Linked DNA regions of Homo sapiens. The protein of the gene in region 1 interacts with the protein of each later gene in a biochemical or structural test. Each region holds a gene or a part of one and is shown on either strand. Other genes may lie near its edges. The genes, in order: F5 and PROS1.

Region 1 (12,284 bases):
TTACATGTACACAGATCACAATAGAATGGTAGAAACACTTGTCCTGGACCCAAAAGAAGTCAACAGAGTAGGAGAAATAGTTCTGGCCAAGTCTTGCCCACTTTGACCCACTGTCATTCCTTAGCAATAACTTTCTTTGCTTAAGAAAGATGTTCATTTCAATTACAGAGGGTGATGCGAGAGGGTAGTTACTTTAGATTTCTCTGACATGGGTGTGCTCAGAGACCTAGATGAATTGAGGAACCAAATCACACAGCTCTCTGGCTCTGAGGCAGGAGTAGTCTTGATGTATCTAAGGAACAGTAAGAAAAACAGTACGGGAAGAAAGAAGAGATGAGGTGGATGGTAGGTGTGTAGAACAAGGGAGGCCCTATGGGCTACGGTAAGAACTTGAATTTTCTTCTAAGTGAAATGGGACATCACTGGAGCATTTTTCTTTTTTTTTTTGAGATGGAGTCTCGCTCTGTCTCCTAGGCTGGAGTGCAGTGATGCAATCTCAGGACCCACTGCAACCTCCGCCTCCTGGGTTCAAGCAATTCTCCTACCTCAACCTCCCAAGTAGCTGGGATTGCAGGCATGCACCACCACACCCAGCTAATTTTTGTATTTTTAGTAGAGATGACTTTTCACCATGTTGGCCAGGCTGGTCTCAAACTCCTGACCTCAGGTGATACACCCGCCTCAGCCTCCCAAAGTGCTGGGATTACAGGTGTGAGCCACCACGCCTCGTCTAAGTGAAATGGAGCATTTCTAAGTAAAATGAAAAACCACTTTGTACAGCAGAGACATAGTATAACGTGTATTAAAAGTTCATCCTAAAACAAAAAGTTCATCATAGCTGCTGTGTAGAGAATAGTCTGTGTAGGGACAAGAATGGAAGCAGAGAGATTAGGCAGTATAGGAAAGAGACTGCAGTGTACTGGGCCAGCACATGTAGCAGAACGTGATGAGTAGTGGTTGGAGTCTGGACATTTTTGTAGGTAAGGCAAACAAGACTTGCTGATGGATTGCATGTGGCTTGTGAGAGACAGAAGTCAAGGATGACCTCAAGGTGTTTTATCAGAACAACTGGGTAAATGATGTTATTAGTTACTGCAATGGGAGAACACAGCAGAGACAGGAGGTTATGGGTGCAGAAATCAAGAATGAGGTTTTACTTTCTACATGCCAGGCACTGTGTTAGAAAGTTTCTGGCTACCTGGATCAAATACAGTCCCTGTACTGAAGGAACTCACAAGCTAGTTTGGAGATAGATGTATGATAGGAGCGACTGCTGAGATATGGGCAAAATATTACAGAAGAAGAGAGGATGAAGCACAAATTCTGTCTGGGGAGTTAGGGAAAAAGTTGATGGCTGAGTCAGAATTTGAGGAATTGTATATAGTCAGCCCTCCATGACCATGGTTCATATTCATGGTTACACATCCATGGAGTCAACCAATTTTGGATCAAAAATATTCAAAAAACAACAATAAAAAATAAACAATAAAAACAATACAAATAAAACTCTAACATAATAGCAATTTACATAGTATTTACATTGCATTCAGTATTATAACTAATTTAAAGATGATTTAAAGTATATGAGAGGATGTGCATAGGTTATTGCAAATACTATGAAATTTTATATAAGGGACTTGAGCATCTGCAAATTTTGGTATCTGTGAGTAGTCCTGGAACCAATACCCTGTGGATACCAAGGGATGACTGTACTAGAATTTCCAAAGTGTAGTCCTTGGAGTCTCTGCATCAGAATCACCTAGGGTCTTAATAAGAGGCAGATTTCCAAATATCACCTCAGCCTCAATGAATCTGAGTTCTGGAGGTGAAACTTGGGAATCTGGACTTTAACGTGTGCTCCTTGGTGATCTTGATGTCTTTGAAATCTTGAGAATCTATGACCAAAAGCCCCATTCCAGACAAGTGACAGAAATCAACTACTGTCATTTCTGAGCCATCCACAAGTGTCATGGGATTGGCTTCTCGCCATTAGGCGTCCTAGAAGCAGGAGAAGGAAGTCACGGCACTCATGGAGTTCAGCCAGCATTTGTTTGCAGTGGTGATGATAATCATAATAAGGCTTTCCTGTACTGTTTCCCTTAATACATTCAAGCACTGTAAGTCCCTACATTAATCCTCACAAGTTTTTAAGGTAGATATTAAGATCCTCATTTTATAGGTGAGGACACTGAGCCTCAGAGAGTTTAAATATCTTGCCTAATATCACACAGCATCATGATTTAAAGTTTAATATGTCTGTCTCTAGATCGTGACTTTTAAGCCACTTCTTTATACTACACCTCCACCTTGTATTCATTCCTTTATTCATTCCTTTATTTATTCAATGAATATCAAGTGCCTATATTATCCTAGGCATCAGAATTGCAATGGTGCGTAAAAGAGTAAAATAGATACACCCACTCCCTGCCTTCATAGAGTTTATAAAAGTCAAACATTTTTATAGTTCTATAACTTTATACGTTTTTATAGTAGGAAAGACAGATTTTAAACAAATGATCACAAAAACATTCAATTTAAACCTATGGTAAATATTATGACAGAAAAGGAGGGAATACTCTGAAGAGTATTTGACAGTGGAATCTAGTCCAATTGGAGGTGAGTTGGGGAATCCCTTCCCGAGGAATTAATCCTTTAACTGAGGTCCAAAGGCAGAGAGGAAAAGGGATGGCCAAAGACATTCTAAAAAGTTAGAGTAGCGTGCGCAAAGGCCCTGAGGTGCCAGAAAATGTGGCCTTTTTAGAGAACTGACAGTTATCCAGTGGGGAGGTGGAGCTTAGTATGTGAAAGGAAGGGGCAGAAGGTGAAGCCGAAGGCATCCTCAGAGTCCCATCATGCAGGGCTTTGTAAGCCTCATAGAGTTTTCCCTTTAGCCTAAGAGTATCTGGAAGCCATTAAAGAGTTTTCATCAGGGGTGCAACATGGACCAGATTTTGGTTTTAAAATCTCTGGCTGTATTTGTGGAGGATGATCTCGGAGGAGACTGAGCAGAGAACAATTGAGAGAACAGATAGAAGACTCCAGGAGAGATGGTGGTGACTGAGATTATGATGAGATGATGAGGAGAGAATATATTAGTGATGTATTTATGAGATAAAATAGTTGGAACTTGAAGATGGATTGGATGTGGGGTAGAGAATAAAGGACATCAGTTGCTGTGGATGGCTGATGAGGTTCTGATTTGGGGAGCTGGGTGGAGGAGGGTGCCATTCTCTGAGATGGAGGACACCGTGGGAGGGCTTTGTTTGGTGGGTGTAGTAGGCAGAATAATGTGCCCCTGCTGAGATGTCCACGTCCTAATCTCTGGGACCTGGAAATATGCTACTTTATATGGCAAAAGGGACTGTGTATCTATGATTAAGAATCTTGAGATGAGATTCTTCTGGGCTGTCCAGGTGGATCCCATGTAATAACAAAGGTCCTTATCAGAGGGATGCAGGAGAATCTGAGTTAGGAAGAGCTTGGAAGATGCTACTCAGCTGGTTTTGAAGATGGAGGAAGGGGCCATGAGCCCGTGAGTGTAGGCAGCTTCCAGTAACTGGAAAAGACAAGGAAACAATTCTCCCCCAGAGCCTCCAGAAGGAATGCAGCTCTGCCAACACCTTGATTTTAGCCCAATAAAACCCATTTTGGACTTCTCATCTGCAGATATATAATCATAAAAGAATAAATTTGTGTTGTTTTAGCCACTAAGTTTGCAGTAACTGGTTACAGAAGCAATGGTAAACTCTGATTTCTGGGACAGAGGTCCTATCTTTCCCTACCCCTGTCTTGCCACCCACGGTTGTCCTATTCCTTTCCTTGAACTCCTACTCCTGGAGTTTATTCTGATCTTGTGCCTGAAGCTTTTTGTTTGTTTTTATGTTAGCTTTACACAGGACTGTGGAGGTCACAAAGTTCAGTCCTTATTTTAGTTAACAAAGCCTGGGAGGTAGGAATCGGGGGACAAAGGTGACTTGCCCAAGGTCAGTCAGTGATCTGGTAGCATTGCTGGGATCAGAACTCAGATCTCTGGACTCCTGAGCCAAAGCTCTCCCTATTCCTTCCACGGGGCAGGCTCAGGCCCCCATCTTTATAGAATAGTCCAGATGTCTACACCTCTTTTGACTCCTGACATGTCGGACTCCACTGACTGACCCCCCTCTTCCAGCTGCTACCCTCTGTCTTGGCTCCTGATGGAAGTTTCCACTGACTATTCCCACCTACCCCAGCTGCCAATGAGCCCAACAGGGTGCTGACTATGCTGCCAATTGTGTGCCGCATTTAGTTGCCATGGTTCTCTTGCTTGGTTGATTTGTTTGTTGGCATCACATGCCTGCAAATACCAGATGCCCAGAGAAAGTCTCCTAAGTTATTTAACCTAATAAGACCTATTACTTCAGTGGACAGTTTGGAGTATTTATTCAACCTCCCCTCCTGCTTCTTCAGATTTAAGGCAAAACAAAAGGATGTTTTCATAAATGCATACCAAATACTTTCACGCATGTAGGAAAACACATGGCTAAATGGTTTTCAAGCTGCTCTTTAGCTCCTCCAACAGCCAGATGGCCTAAAACCCTTCTAACCCTCTCCTCAGTGCCCAAAGCTGGATTGGGGAAAGGAGTGGCCTACTTCAGGGCTTGGGGAAGCCAGCACAGCATGTACCCAATTTAGTGCAGTTGTGGAACTGGAAAGGACTGCAGAAGGTCAACTAATCCAATCCCCTGCTCTTAGGTGAACAATGCATTACATAACACAAGGTAGTGATTGTTGCAGCTATTTCAAAACTCCTTCAGGGACAAACATTTTATAATTTGTCCCTGAAAAATATGCAGACTCAAAACTAGCCAATTTAATTAATTATTTATTTATTTAGAGATGAGGTCTTATTTTGTCACCCAGGCTGGAGTGCAGTGGTGTGATCATAACTCACTGCAGCCTCCAACTCCTGGGCTCAAGTGATGCTCTTGTCCTAAATGACCCTCTTGCCTTAGCCTCCCCAGTAGCTGAAATGACAGGTATGTACCACCATGTCTGGCTAATTTAAATATATATATATATATATATATATATATATATATATATATATATGTATGTATTTTTTTAAATAGAAACAGAGTCTCACTACATTGCCCAGGCTGGTCTAAAACTCCTGGCCTCAAGCAATCCTCCCACCTTGGCCTCCCAAAGTGCTGGGATTACAGTCATGAGCCACTATGCCCAGCCAAGACTAGCCATTTTAAAGCCCAAGACAGAATTCCTAAAAATGACCCCAGCTGTACTCCCTCACCTGCCCAAATGTCCACAAACCTTATTGGATGGGCATCTTCATACCTCCAATCCTACAGCCCAGCCCCCTACAATTACAAGAACTAACAACAACAATAGTTCATGCTGCAGGAGTGAGGCTCATGACTTTTTCAGGGCTCAGCTAGAATCACACCCAGCAGATGAGTGGAGCAGGACATAGGGGAAAGGTACAAATAACACAGGACTAGTCTGGGGAATGGGAGAGGCCACATAGTTAATGGCAGTGTTCAAATCCAGATCTTCTCAGTCAAAATAAAAGGCTTTTCCTTCACGCCAGATTTGCCTCCTTGTATCAACTACTATAGAGTTACAAAGGTGAATAAGATACCACTCCTGCACTTCATAAGTTCATAGTTAAGCAACTTTGGACATTCAGGAAGAGATTACATTAAAATGGACGTCGAAACACCTTTGTCCACATGAAACAAATATATTCTGAGATACACAGGGGTTGACAGAAAGGTGCAAAGGCCTTACACATAAATTGGAGACTGTTCTCACCAACTGTCAGAGTCTACCTCTAACAAGGTTAAATCAGGAAATCACTAAAAAATTTAATCATCTGAAAGGACTTTGATCACAGAACCCTTTTCTTCAAAAGCTATCCATGCCTTTTTATTGTTTAAAAGTCTTCAGCCTGGAATTAGTCCTTTCCGTCTCTTATGGCATTTAGCACAATGTCTCACACAGCAAAGGGATTAAAATTTGCTTAGCTTGGCAAAAGCCACAAAAGGTACACCTTCAAATACCGGCCCCAATCCTCTTTTCCTGGCCCTAATGAGTATGTTTCCCACCTTATATTCCCTTCATCTACCTACAATTTAATTTAATTAAATAGTTCTTAAGTATCTATTGTACATGCTAAGCTTGGAGCTGGAGCTATGAAAATGAATAGACTCTGTGATATAGGACAGGACATCCTTCAACTTCCTACTCATAACTACAAACTTAATTTTATTTGCAACGTTATCCTCTGCTTTCCTGGCCCCCCATGAAGGTGGTAGCCATTCTACCTAAGGCCAAGCCAGCCCAAGGTTTGAATCCCAATGCTTCCTGCTTCTTCTAAGTCTCCATTAATCATTCTCTCTCAGATGTTTTATCCCCACATTTTCTATTGGAAAGGACTTCATGGCATTTCTATAGAGTCTTCCCTTAAATATTTAAGTCTCTGTATTCCTTTTTATAAAATTCTCAAATGTCCTTAAGCTCCTCAGTACCCACCCCCACCCCCGAAACTACCCTGTCTCTCCTCCCATCTGGAACCAAGTTTCAGGGAAGAGTTATCTATAAGACCCTTGTGCTTCAGTTTCCTCGCCTTCCATTCACTCCTCAACACCCTGCCATCTGGTCTTGTCCCACTATTCCATAACAAAGGGACCATATTTTGACCCTTATATTAATAGCATTTGACCCTTTGCCTCCAGGATAACACATTCTCTAGATTTCTTCTCCCCTCCCTGAACAGGCTTTCTCAAGCTCCTTGGTAAACTTTTCTTTCTTGGCTCATCCCTTGGACTTTGCTGCTACTTTGAGCTCTGTCTGCAGCCTTCTCTTCTCATCACATCCTCCCTGGGTGAGTTCACACCCTCTAAATTCTTCATTTGCCATCTTTGTTCTGATGTCTCCCAAATGTTGACAGCTAGCTCAGATCTCTCTTTTGAGGGCCAAACTTCTACACCCGTCTGCTCACTTAACATCTCTAGGTAGATATTCTATACACACCTCAGACTCCAAATCTATACTTATCACCTTCTCTCACAAACTATCTCCTTTTCTTACATTTTCTTTCTCACTGAATGGCACCCTATCCATTCTGCTGTTCAAACCAGACACCTTGAAGTCCATAACAATTCCCTTTTCTTCCTCATTATCTGCATCTAATGAGTCACCAAGTTTAATCAACTTTAGCTCCTAAATATCTTTGGACTCCATCTCAGCTTCTCTGCTATCTGGATTGATACAACAGTCCCATGACTACTTTCTCTGGCTCTGGACTGGTCTTTCTCCAATCTATTCTCTATAATTGGACAACATAATCTTTCTAAAGGACAAATATTTCTCCTGCTGAAATCCTTTTAGGGACTCCCTATTCCTCTCAATATAAAGCCTAGCATGGATCCCTGATCCCCATCTAGTTGCATCTCTTGTTAATTCCTTCCCTGAAGTTTGTGGTCCAACTGTGCTGATCCAGTTATGGTTCCACAAATATACCATACTCTCACCTCCAAACTTTTAAACATTCTGTGCCTTGGTTTAAAATGCATCTATCACCCAACCCCTTGCCTCCCCACTTGGCTTTCCAAGATCCTACTCTTTTTTCAGCTATCAATCTAGAAATAGAAATACTTTCCTGACCACCAGACTGGAGATAGGTCTCCTATGTCCTACTACAGAATCCTCATCATAGTTCTTCCTTATTACTCTACTGTCATTGCTTGTCTATCCATAGGTTATCCCCAATAGCTGATTGGCTCCTGGAAATCAAGGTCCATGTCTTATTCACTTTATCCCAGAGCCTAGAATGTAGTAGGTTCTCAATATACTTTTTTGTTGTTGTTGTTGTTGTTTTTTTTTTTTTGAGATAGAGTTTCGCTCTGTCACCCAGGTTGGAGTGAAGTGATGCGATGTCAGCTCACTGCAGCCTCCACCTCCTGGGTTCAAGTGATTCTCATGTCTCAGCCTCCTGAGTAGCTGGGACTACAGGCATGTACCATCATGCACAACTAATTTTTGTATTTTCAGTAGAGGCGGGGTTTCACCATGTGGGCCAGGCTGGTCTGGAACTCCTGACCTCAAGTGATCCATCTGCCTTGGCCTCCCAAAGTGCATGAGCCACCACGCCTGGCCTCAATACACAATTATTTAAAAATAAAAGAATATTTAAATGCAGATCTGTTTAAAATTAAATAAATATATAAATGAACACATGTGAAGACTATATAAATGAGTGGAGAAATATAGATATATAGATATCCATAATACTATGATATATATGATCTAAGTTATGATTAGTAATAGCAGCAACAATAACAATAATGTAGCTAACTTCTACTGAGTGCCTATTATGTGTCAGCATCATTATAAATACTTTGTACTTATTAACTCAATTGATCCTCTTAATATCTTTAGAAGGTAGGGATTAATTCAAGGTACTGGGGATGTATAGAAGAGGGAAGATTTAATTCTGCTGGTATTGAGGGGGTGTCAATGTAGCTTCAGAGGGAAAGTGGCTTCTGGGTAGGTAGTAGTGAAAGCCTTGGTTTTGGGTGAGATTCGAACCCTGGGGAAGAATATCTGGTGGGGATACTGAGCAGGAGTGGTAAGAGAAGTCTGAGAAAACCAAGGGGAAGTGGCACTAGAAAAAACAGGTAAAGCGAGAGCTTCAGAAAGGAAGAGTGTTAAATGTCCTAGTAATGTCTAGTAGTAAAAGAACATAGGCTCTGGCACCTCAAGTCCTAGGTGCCCTTTTGTGAGAGTAATTTTAGTAGACTTATTCATACTAAAGCAGATTAGGGAAGGAATATAGGCGAAGAAATGTAGAGAATGATACAGAGTTCTCATACAGAAAACTGGTAGTGAAGGAAAGGAGAGAAAAGGAAAAGGCAGGCAGGGTCAAGGGGAGATTTTTTTTTTTCTTTTTCTAGATAGGAGTTAACTGGACATGGTTTGATTTGGTTTTGGTTTAGTCGTTGATTTTTAACTGAAAGGAAGACTCCCATTGACTAAATATTGAAGATTAAAGGAGATCAGAAGAGGCAGGACAGACTAGGATGATTCTGGGAAAGACAGCAGGTCTTCATCTGATTGGGGAAAGGGACAGGTGAATTACTGACAAGGGGATTCAACTGGAGGAAGTTCTCCCTTGATGGTCTCTATCATCCCTGCGGAATATGGTATCATAGTTAAGATATTAGAACCCTATTCAACCCAGTCTTCTTGATAAAGGAAGAGATGAGGAAAAAATAAGAGATTTTCTTTAAAAATTATGGCTATTGTATATATCACACTAAATAAACAGAAGAATAGACGGGAAAGAGATGCAAAAGAGTCAGCCATACATAGTTCCTTTGAATGAATCTAGGGAGCCAAATGGAAGCAAAATATCATTTTGCGAAGGCACATCTATGCTCATTAAACTAGACCATAATCTCCATGAACCCAGGATATGAGACTGTCTTGTCCACTATTGCATCCACAATGCCTATTTCAATGCCCAGCCCATACCAGGTACTCAATAACAGTTTTTTAGATGAATGAATAAAAATTCAAACACTTATAAGTTTTATTTAGTTATTTTAATCAAGGTTAAAAACAGAGCCAGCTTCATGGGTATGTGACCTGGGCAGTTTCACAGGGCCCCATGCCCCAAAGGGCCCCTGGCTTGGTTTAATGCTTTGCAGTCACTGTGAAATTTTCAATAATATGAACAAGGGGACTCACATTTTCATTTTGCACTGGGCCCCACATATTATGTAGCCAGTACTTCTTAAAAAAAAAACCACACGTTTCTATAAATTTTCAGTAAATGGATATTTTAGATGCATGTGAATGCCAAATTACCCATAGAAATTTATCTTTAAAATTAAAAAAGTATATTTCAGGCTTACCTGAAATGGTAGATTGTGGTTTTTCTTTCTTAAAATATGGTTCATACTCTCTGTAGACAATTTTCTTAAAGGAAGTTACAGAAAGATTCAAACTGGAAATAAAATACAAAAACTAATTTGAAAGGCATATTCAATATCTATTTCTCACATTACAAAAAAAGTAGATCTCTCATATCTTCAGACTTCTAGTAGAATACCAGTATCTTTATTGTATTTCAGAAGTCCACAGTTTTATAAATATGATCAATAAGTAAAGTTAATGAAATAATTATTGGTCTCTTCAAAAATATCCTGTTGTGATAACTATTTGTTCACAAGTTAATCTACCCTAATATCATTCCTCAGAATCAATTTTCTAAAAAGAACCCAATATCACAGTAGAAACCCAAACTGTAGGTTTAGATTTTATATGATTAAAATATGACCAAATCCTTTATGAATAAATATATGAGCTGTTTTTCAACTGATCAATCAAATATAGTTTTAATCTACTGGGGAACATTGTGAAAAAGTATTGATTTGGTGGAATTTATTTCTAGTTGAGAGGTGAGAGATGGCTAATGGGGTAAAAGCCCTGGGATTCATATTGGAAACAAACAAATGAAAAAACTGTTTTGGAAAGAGTCAGTAACTTGTCCAAGAGATACAGTTGATAAGTGGCAGAACCAAGATTAAAAAATGTGAAACCACTGCATTCATGATTTTAAATAAAATTAGAGAGAGGACAGACAACAGGGAGAGTTGTGAGTGGTGGGTTACTTTCCTGTTTTTGCTGTTGTTGTTATTGTTCTGTACCTCTAAAGGCAAATCAGTCTTATCCTTGTCTTAAACTCAAAGATGAGGGTAAAAGGAAAGAGAATTTGGAGAAAATACCTTGCAAATGTCTAAATCAGTTGATCAGAGTGGCTTTGTTTTGCTTCCTAATGTGGGGACAGTGGCCCAGCCATAATCAAGACATAACAGCACCCACATATGCCATGACTTCTATACAGCGCGGTGGCTAGGGTGCAGGCTGTGAATTCAGTATCTCTGGACTTGAAGCCTATATCTACCTCTTATTGTTTTACTTTGAAAAGTTTACTTCATCCATTTGTGCCTCAGTTTCTACAACTATGAAATGAGATTAATACTGAAATCTCCTTCACAGAATTGTTGTATAATTTTAAATAAGTTGATATGTGCAAAAGGCATAGAGCTGGCACACTAGAAATACTCAATCCATGTTAGCTAGTAATATTATTTTGTAAATGTAATAAGAGTTAGTCTTTACCCTTCAGGTTTTCTCAGAAAGCAAAAACAAATCTGTAGTTACAGTAATGCTCACAAATTGTAATATGTGGAATACAGAAACTGTGTTAATATGTGGGGGCAGAATTAAAGGAGGCACGTAAGTACTTTTAGAATAGCTAGATAGAGAAGGTAGTGGATTCTCCATCACTGGAAGCATTCAAGTAGAAATTAGACAACTACTTGGTAAGGTCATTGGTGCTGAGGGAAAGGGGAAAAGTAGAAGGTTAAAGCGTGGAAGTTGAATATGAATTAAATGAACTCTTAGCATTCTTCTAACTTAAGAATTCCAGGATTCTATATACTAATGTCCCTAATGTGGAAGTCCATTTTTATTTATTTATTTTTAGTACAATTGAAAAGTTATTGTCCTCCCCTGCCCCAGATCTTTAATACAGAAATGTAGATGATGGTGTAAAATCTTTACTAAAAAATATCAGTCTCTTACGTGGAGTAATTTCAACAGAGAGATGTTTCCTAACATGTTTTTACTATGTATGCTGTGTATTCATACTGAGGTATGTCTATTTTGATCTGAACAATTTCTATTGGAAAATAATCTATCTGATTAAAAAGTTACAGATCATATGAATTCAAACAATGTGTACGACGAGTTTTTCATTTATAAGGATTGTTTAAAGATGATTTGTTCATAATCACAAAATCATATAAAGCTAGAACCCTAGAAGGAAAATGTATGTATATCTTTTCTTCAATATCTCTTTGTATACATGTGAGTGACTAAACAAGTTTTCTAAGGAAATTTTTGAAAGTGTTCACCTTAGACTTGGAGCAAGAATAATAGATACATTTTACCTTTAAAAGGCATTGTCCTGCTAATATTATATGAAATAAGTAGATAGATGTCTGCTTTGTGCTAAAATACACTTTGCCAAAAGATGGAGTTGGCTATGTTGATATTCACCTAGTGAGTATCATAGCTCTAGGGGCAGGACAAGTTAGAACAAGTTCTTAGTTTAAGCAGCCAGATATATGGATTAGATTTTTCATAAGAAAATGCTAGAGAGAAATGATATGATTTAGGGTTAAACAATATGACAGTTTGTCTGGGTTGTGTTTCTA
Region 2 (7,501 bases), on another chromosome or scaffold:
GTGGCACAGCTGTGTGCAAGAACATCCCAGGAGATTTTGAATGTGAATGCCCCGAAGGCTACAGATATAATCTCAAATCAAAGTCTTGTGAAGGTAGGATGATGGTGGTATCATTACTGATGGTGGAGAGGGTGGGTGTGAACCCTGAACTGATATTTAAAAGCATTGGCTTTGTTTGACATCAACAGTCATATTTTCTTATCCCTAATATAGCTTGTTCAATTGGGTAATCATTGGCTTCCTTCCTTCCAGAGCAAGAGTATGTAAGGCATATGGTCTTTAAGTTTGGTGTTAGGCACGCCAGTTGGCCCTTTGAGCTACCTATGAATTGGAGACCTCCATGTGTGGTAAAAACAAGATAAACATATTTTCACATCATTTATATCATATTCAAAGATAAAGAGAATTTCACTTTGGAAGGAAAAACAGTAGATAGAAAAGAAAGACACAAGCTTAAAAATCATCTTATTGAGACAATGAGCATGGTTAAAACTTTAGTTTTTATTCCAAGCTTTTCAGTGATTTTTCTGTGCATATATAAATAAATCATTTATTCTAAAATAAAAAATGACACAGTTCTATTATCTCATGATAAAGAAATGATAACAATACTCTAGAAATTTAAGAAATACTGATCGGTAATGTCAGAGCCTGTGGGTTTGGGGCAACCCCTTAAAGGTGCTGTTACTTCATGTGACTGCAGTGGCGCTGCCCTGTGTGCATCAGGAAGCTTCAACATATTATAGTTGTTTGTTTGTAGGTTTGTTTATTATGATATACAGATTATCTCATACCTTCCTTTCGATTTTTTAAAATTTTAAAACAGATTTACTGCCATGGCTGGAACTAATCAACACTAATTTTTCTATTGTATCTGTATATATATATGTATGTATGTATATTCACACACATGTATAATGTACCTTTTAAAAAATAGATTTAGGGGCTACAAGTACAGTTTTAATGTACTCTTTTAACCATTTTTAAATGTACAGTTCAGTGGCATTAATTACATTCATGCCATTATGCAGCCATCACTGCTATTTCCAAAACTTTTTCATCAGCCCCAACAGAAACTCTTAAGCAGTAACCATTAAGCAGTGAGTTTTCTTTTATTAGTTACCTTGATGGCGGTAACCTCTAATCTTGTTTTCTGTCTCTATGAAGTTGCCTAAATCAATAATAATTTTACAATATATTTTTTAACTACGTATGCTGCTTTTGAGATTTTGATGTCCTATCATCTCCTTTTGCAATCACCAAAAATATTCCCCTGCCAGCCCCCGCAACACATTTCTCCTTTCTCACCATTGCAGATAGAAATTACCGTGGAAAACTCTAGATGTCTGCGGAATTATCATTAGCCAACTTCATCACTTGTATTGTAGTTTTATTTAATGAATGACATATTTTTTAAAAAGATTTATATATGACTCTTATCTATAACTTTAATAATATGCAATTTTAATACTAAGGATTATTAATTTTGGGAATCTATTTTAAATTATTTTATGAGAACATATTCAATAATAGCATTTATGAGCTTGTGGAGTTTTAAAGGTCATAGGGCATATCCAATGAAAATGTCAATGATCTTATATAACTCTGAGATAGATGTTTGCTTCAACATAATATTATAAATTTCCAAGAATGATTTTCTCAAAATATGGAGTAGGGACAGGGACCATATAGAAGATTTCATAATATGGGAGATTACATCACAGTGAGGTTTTTTAAAAAAAAAAAAACAGATATTTCCCTAAATTCACTGCCAACATTAATTATCGCATTATGAGTGTTCCAATGTTCTTGATATTGTCATTTAATTCCTGATTGTATCAACCTTCAGTTAAAGGGGTCTTTTCTTCCCTTCCCTTCCCTAACTTTCCTTTCCTTTACTTCCCCATCATGCTCTCCCTTCCTCTTTCCCTTCTCATTTCTTTTTTCTTTTTTTCAAAGCAATGAATTGTGAGGTAATCTCAATGAAATTCAAATGATCAGAAATGACAGTTAAGTTGAGATTCTCAATCTTTTTTTTCTTCAAATTCAAAATGAGAAATTTGGTAGAATTGTTATACTTTACTTAATCACTGAAAGTTATAAATTAATTTTTGTTTCAAATATGTAAATAAAAACTATACTTGTAACTCGTTTAAATTTCCATGTTCAGTATTATGTTTAAATGTAGTTTGATGTCATAGTATTTCTTTCCCTAAGGTTCGATTATCATTGATTATATCATACTACAATCATAATATTCCTCTGCCTATAAGATTGAACATTTAGGGGATATTAAAGTTTGTGTGCGTGTGTTTTTTTTACCTCAGATATAGATGAATGCTCTGAGAACATGTGTGCTCAGCTTTGTGTCAATTACCCTGGAGGTTACACTTGCTATTGTGATGGGAAGAAAGGATTCAAACTTGCCCAAGATCAGAAGAGTTGTGAGGTAAACATTTTACAATGCTTAACTTCTCACCTGTTTTCTAAAATGAGAGATCCTAGATACTTATTTTCACATAGCTAAGTCAGGAAAATACAGACGTTCTGCAATAATTGCTGTAGCTTTAAGCAGGTTATGAGTCATGATTATTTACTAATTATGGTCATGTAAGTCATAAACATTGGGGATAATTAGTGGCTGGGTTTAAAAAAAAGAGGGTAGAGTCACAGTTTAGAGAGTACTTATCTGTAGTCTGTACATTTATAAAATACAACTTGTATGTTTACTTAAGAAATCAAGAAAAGCTGAGTTTAATAGCCCTCATTGTGAAAAAAAATCTCTCATAGAAACTTCAGTGAAAACATTTTCCAGTGTCTACTTTTCTGGATTCCACTCTGACTAGTTTGATCATGCCTTAGGCGTTATAGGGTTTATAAAGTGCTCATAAAATTTCAGAGGGTACAAGTGCAGTTTTAATGTACCCTTTTAACCATTTCTAGGATTTAGTGGGGTTTAAGTATATCATAATTCAGAGAGGTTGATTTCTTAATCTGTGTCTCTCAAACTTGCTTTTAATTACTTAGATTTAATGCATAATTGACCCAGGAATTGAATATTGGGGGTAGGTGCTCATTTTTACTTCATTGAAATAAATGTCACCATCTGAGCTCTTTTTTTCCTGCATCTTTTTTTGACAAGTGAAGGTAAAATTATATATTATTATGAGGCAGACCATAAAAAATGCCTAAATAATGATTTAACTAAGTATACATACATACCTCTATAGCTGTTGCCAAAACAAAGCTGTATATGTCCAGAAAAATGTCACATTCAATAATATGCAACCTACTTGGTAATAAGCTAGTTGGCATTTGTTGTAATTTTGGTACGTTACTACTTAATTGAAATGCCATGCTGTGTGAACATCTATTTTGTAATTTAGTCCTTTATTATTTCTGTATTTGGTGTAGTTACATATCACCGTCTGCCTTGAAATAGATTTATTAAAGTTTTAAGGGGAAATAAAATGTTATTTCTGGGCCTATATTTAATATAGTGCTATGTACGTAATTCTCCTCAAAATATCCTCATATGTGTTCAATAATTTGTATGTTAAAAGCTTTTCATTTTAATGTTTGTTTTCACTCGTAGAAAAAAAATACTTGATACCATATGTGATGACTTTAAATAATGTTCTTGTAAATTCCTTGGAGACTATGAGATCTGAATTTATATTTATTTCCTTCATGTTTTCCAGTATTCCCTTTACTATCTAGATAGCACATTCTTGCTCAGAAAACTTTTGCTTAATAAATGAATGAGTGAATGAATGAGGTGCTGTTTATTGGTACATTAATTCTTACACCTATTTCTGACTTCAAATAAAAATAATTTTCAGACATAATTCATGGGAGATAATATACCTGACTGTTAATTAAAGAAATATATATTGGTTCTTGAAGAAAGAGTTTGTGTTTAGGACGAAAATTTGCAAAGGAAGTATTAAAGACAAAGATCGAAAGCCATGCACATTGAACGAGGCTTTAAAACACATGTATTCTTGGAGGTTATACTGATAGATAGACTATACAAGGAAATGGAAGATATGTATTTATTATTACCAAAAATATTCTTAATTATTTTAGTGTATTACAGATGATACATTAGTAACCAAACAAAAATGCATGACCTCACACAAACATTAAGCAATAACCTGTGCATTTTGATTTTCTTGTTGTTTATTTGGTTTCTTTTATTCCAGGTTGTTTCAGTGTGCCTTCCCTTGAACCTTGACACAAAGTATGAATTACTTTACTTGGCGGAGCAGTTTGCAGGGGTTGTTTTATATTTAAAATTTCGTTTGCCAGAAATCAGCAGGTGAGGAACCAATACCAATGATAATTTCTAGAGGTTAAGCAGATAAGGGCAGAAGAAAAGTGGCCGAAAAGGTTTGAAGTGTGTGAAATTGTATTACCTATCAGATAATGTAGTCATATTACCAATCAGATGACTTGGGGAAACCTAAAGTTAATTTACTCCTTCACACATGTAATTTTCATCCTAAAACCTTTTTGAGTCATTCTAGGCTGACTTTCCCCAATGAACATTTTACATTATTCCATATTATTCCTTTTGTAGAAAATGCATATTTACTAAGAAGCTGGGAAAGTAGATTTAATGTACTTGTGAAATTTCCATTATTCTTTACACATGTTATGAAAACCAGGTAATAAAAAATACTCAGTATTGCTTTTAGAATATCATTATATTCAAAATTATTAAGGAAAAAATTTAAACTTGCTTAAGTGGCATTTTAAAGACATATATTACATAATTTTAGTTGGCTGTCTAAATACTTTATCCATTATTATCGTACTTAGATTGAGTTCAGAAATGAAGTAAATGCTTATGTTTTTTAGTCATGATTCCACTTATTTTTATAGCAATGTTTATGATCCAATTTTTATTTTATTATATTTATTTATTTTTGAGACAGAGTCTTGCTTTGTTCCCCAGGCTGGAGTGCAGTGGCGCAATCTCGGCTCACTGCAACCTTCGCCTCCCAGGTCAAGCAATTCTCCTGCTTCAGCCTTCTGAGTAGCTAGGACTACAGGTGTGAGCTGCCACACCCAGCTAATTTTTGTATTTTTAGTAGAGACAGAGTTTTACCACGTTGCCCAGGGTTGTCTCAAACTCCTGACCTCAGGTGATCACCTCAGGTGATCTGCCATAATTGTACTTCAGTTATCAGATTTTCTCAGAAGCATACATTGCTGGAAGTAGAAGAAAGAAATTGGATTTTTTTTGGAATAATGAGAAGGCAAAATACTTGAGACAGATTATACAGTTCAAATTTTAAAATATTTTAATTAAATAAGCATGTATGTTTAGAACTTGATGTTAGATACATGAATGATTATTCATTAAATAATTCAACTAAATTCATAGACGTTATTAAAAACATTGAAAATTATTCTAAGATCAATAACTTACATAAATACTTAAGTAACAGTGCTCCTTCCACACTTTATTTCTGCCAATATGTGGTTTTTTCCTTTAACATCACAGAGCAACTAATATCTTCTAATGATAGAGATTGGAGAAAACTCTTCCCTGCTATGAGAATAATAATGAGAGAAAAATATTAGTTCTAGTAAATAACACTTTTAGGAATACAATTGATCCTCCAAATCCTTGAGTTCCTCATCTGTGGATTTAACCAACCTCGGGTAGATAATATTCAGAAAAAAACACAATGACAATACAATACAAAATAATACAAATGAGACACAATACAGTATGACAACTATTTACATACATTTGCATTGTATTGAGTATTATACATAATGTAGAGACGACTTAAAGTACGTGAGAGGATGTGCATAGGTTATATGCAAATACTATGCCATTCTATATAAGGGACTTGAGCATCTGTGGATATTGATACCATCCAGAGGTCCTGGAGCCAATCTCCAGGAGTTTGTTCATTTCTCACTGACGATTCATAGTAGTTTGATCTCTAACATGGGATCAGAATTGGACAAATTATTTTTTCCAGAATTTATTATTTATTTATTTTAAACTTTTCATTGAAATATAAAGTATGTACCGATATGTACACATTAGATTAAATGTATAGCTTGATGAATTTTTATAAACTGCCCCTTGTGTGATCAACACAAAGAATAGCTAGTGCTTTTATTTATTTTTGCAAATTTCTTGACGTCTGTTGCTCATGATCAAATACTTTCCCTCCGTAAATGTCAACAAATTCATTCTATTTTCCTGTTTACCATGCTTGTGAAAAAGAATGAATTGTTCCCCATTGTAATGAATCAATATGCTGCTGATATATTCCAGAAACAAAATATGCAGAACATGACCCTTTGAAACTATGATTTCAGCCTGATTTTACAAAGAAAAGGAAATTATCTCCATAATAGAATCAACTGCTGGAAGATCCTGAGCATACACAGATTTGGATTTTGGCAAGATAATATTGCTTCACATCAGCAAAATGCTCAGATAATTATGAAAGAGCATAGAAGTCCTTATTCCAAGCAAAATTGTTCTTTTTTTCATAATCTGAGTTCAGTAAATTCCTACTACATTGTTATCCATCCAACATACTTTACTCCACATTTTACCTCTTTTTAAATATTTCTTTGGAATTCTAAAGATGAAAACATTCATTTTGTCACCTTTTCTTTGTTCCATTTGAGGGAGATACGTGCCCCATTGCAAATGGTGCCTCTATTACTATTACTATTTTACTATATTGCGGTAAGAGTGTGGGATTCTGTCCTGCCTAATATAGCAATTATCTGAAGTCCAGACTCTTTAACTTAAATTGCCTTTATTTTAAGTTAGGTGACTAATAGTTATACACCTATTGTTCCTTTTCCCTGTTTGTCTTTCGTCAATCATGTGGATTTGCTAGTCCCTTGGAAACTTCAATGCTGATTCTCATTGAAGTGTTTTAAGGATACTGAATCAACACATGTTATTTTAAGTCCTGCATCCTAAGACTTTTCTCCCCTGTAATAGCTACATATATGTCTAGAGTCTTAATAGCAACAGATGTTGCCAGCACTCAGATACCCCCCAAACACATGGGTAGACTATGTCTTTTAAGTTTTCCTTCTGTGTATTCTACAACAGTGACTTATGCAACTGGAGTTTTAGGAAAGCTAATAGATATATTTTAAGTTTTTAAATTTTACCTTTCTTACCACACATGAAGGCTTAATGATGTCTGCAGTCATCCATGTGCCATCTTGTAGATCTCCACGAGTGATTCCTGACATGTGAAATTATAGGGAAAATATGCCTTTTGATGAATAAACCAACGATGAAATTGTAACACATTTTATGATCACTTATGGATACAGCAAAAACAAAAACAAACAAAAAAGAACAACAACAAAAAAAACTACCACTTCTTAATGTCAGATTATATAGTGTATAAAAGGCTCCAGGAGAGATATAGTATGCCTGATACTTATACCTGTGTATTAATTTCAGCATTTGGAAGGTGCTATCAAAATATATGTCAAA

Evidence for each region.
Region 2: the proteins of F5 (region 1) and PROS1 form a complex in vitro, tested with the Homo sapiens proteins (2 studies listed by BioGRID).

Annotation. Positions count from the first base shown.
Region 1 is NC_000001.11:169,572,517-169,584,800, forward strand, and holds part of F5 (coagulation factor V preproprotein), read right to left. Parts: intron 10,007-12,284; coding exon 9,915-10,006; intron 1-9,914. UniProt on the Homo sapiens protein: Central regulator of hemostasis. It serves as a critical cofactor for the prothrombinase activity of factor Xa that results in the activation of prothrombin to thrombin.
Region 2 is NC_000003.12:93,893,396-93,900,896, reverse strand, and holds part of PROS1 (vitamin K-dependent protein S isoform 2 preproprotein), read left to right. Parts: coding exon 1-93; intron 94-2,327; coding exon 2,328-2,449; intron 2,450-4,205; coding exon 4,206-4,321; intron 4,322-7,501. UniProt on the Homo sapiens protein: Anticoagulant plasma protein; it is a cofactor to activated protein C in the degradation of coagulation factors Va and VIIIa. It helps to prevent coagulation and stimulating fibrinolysis.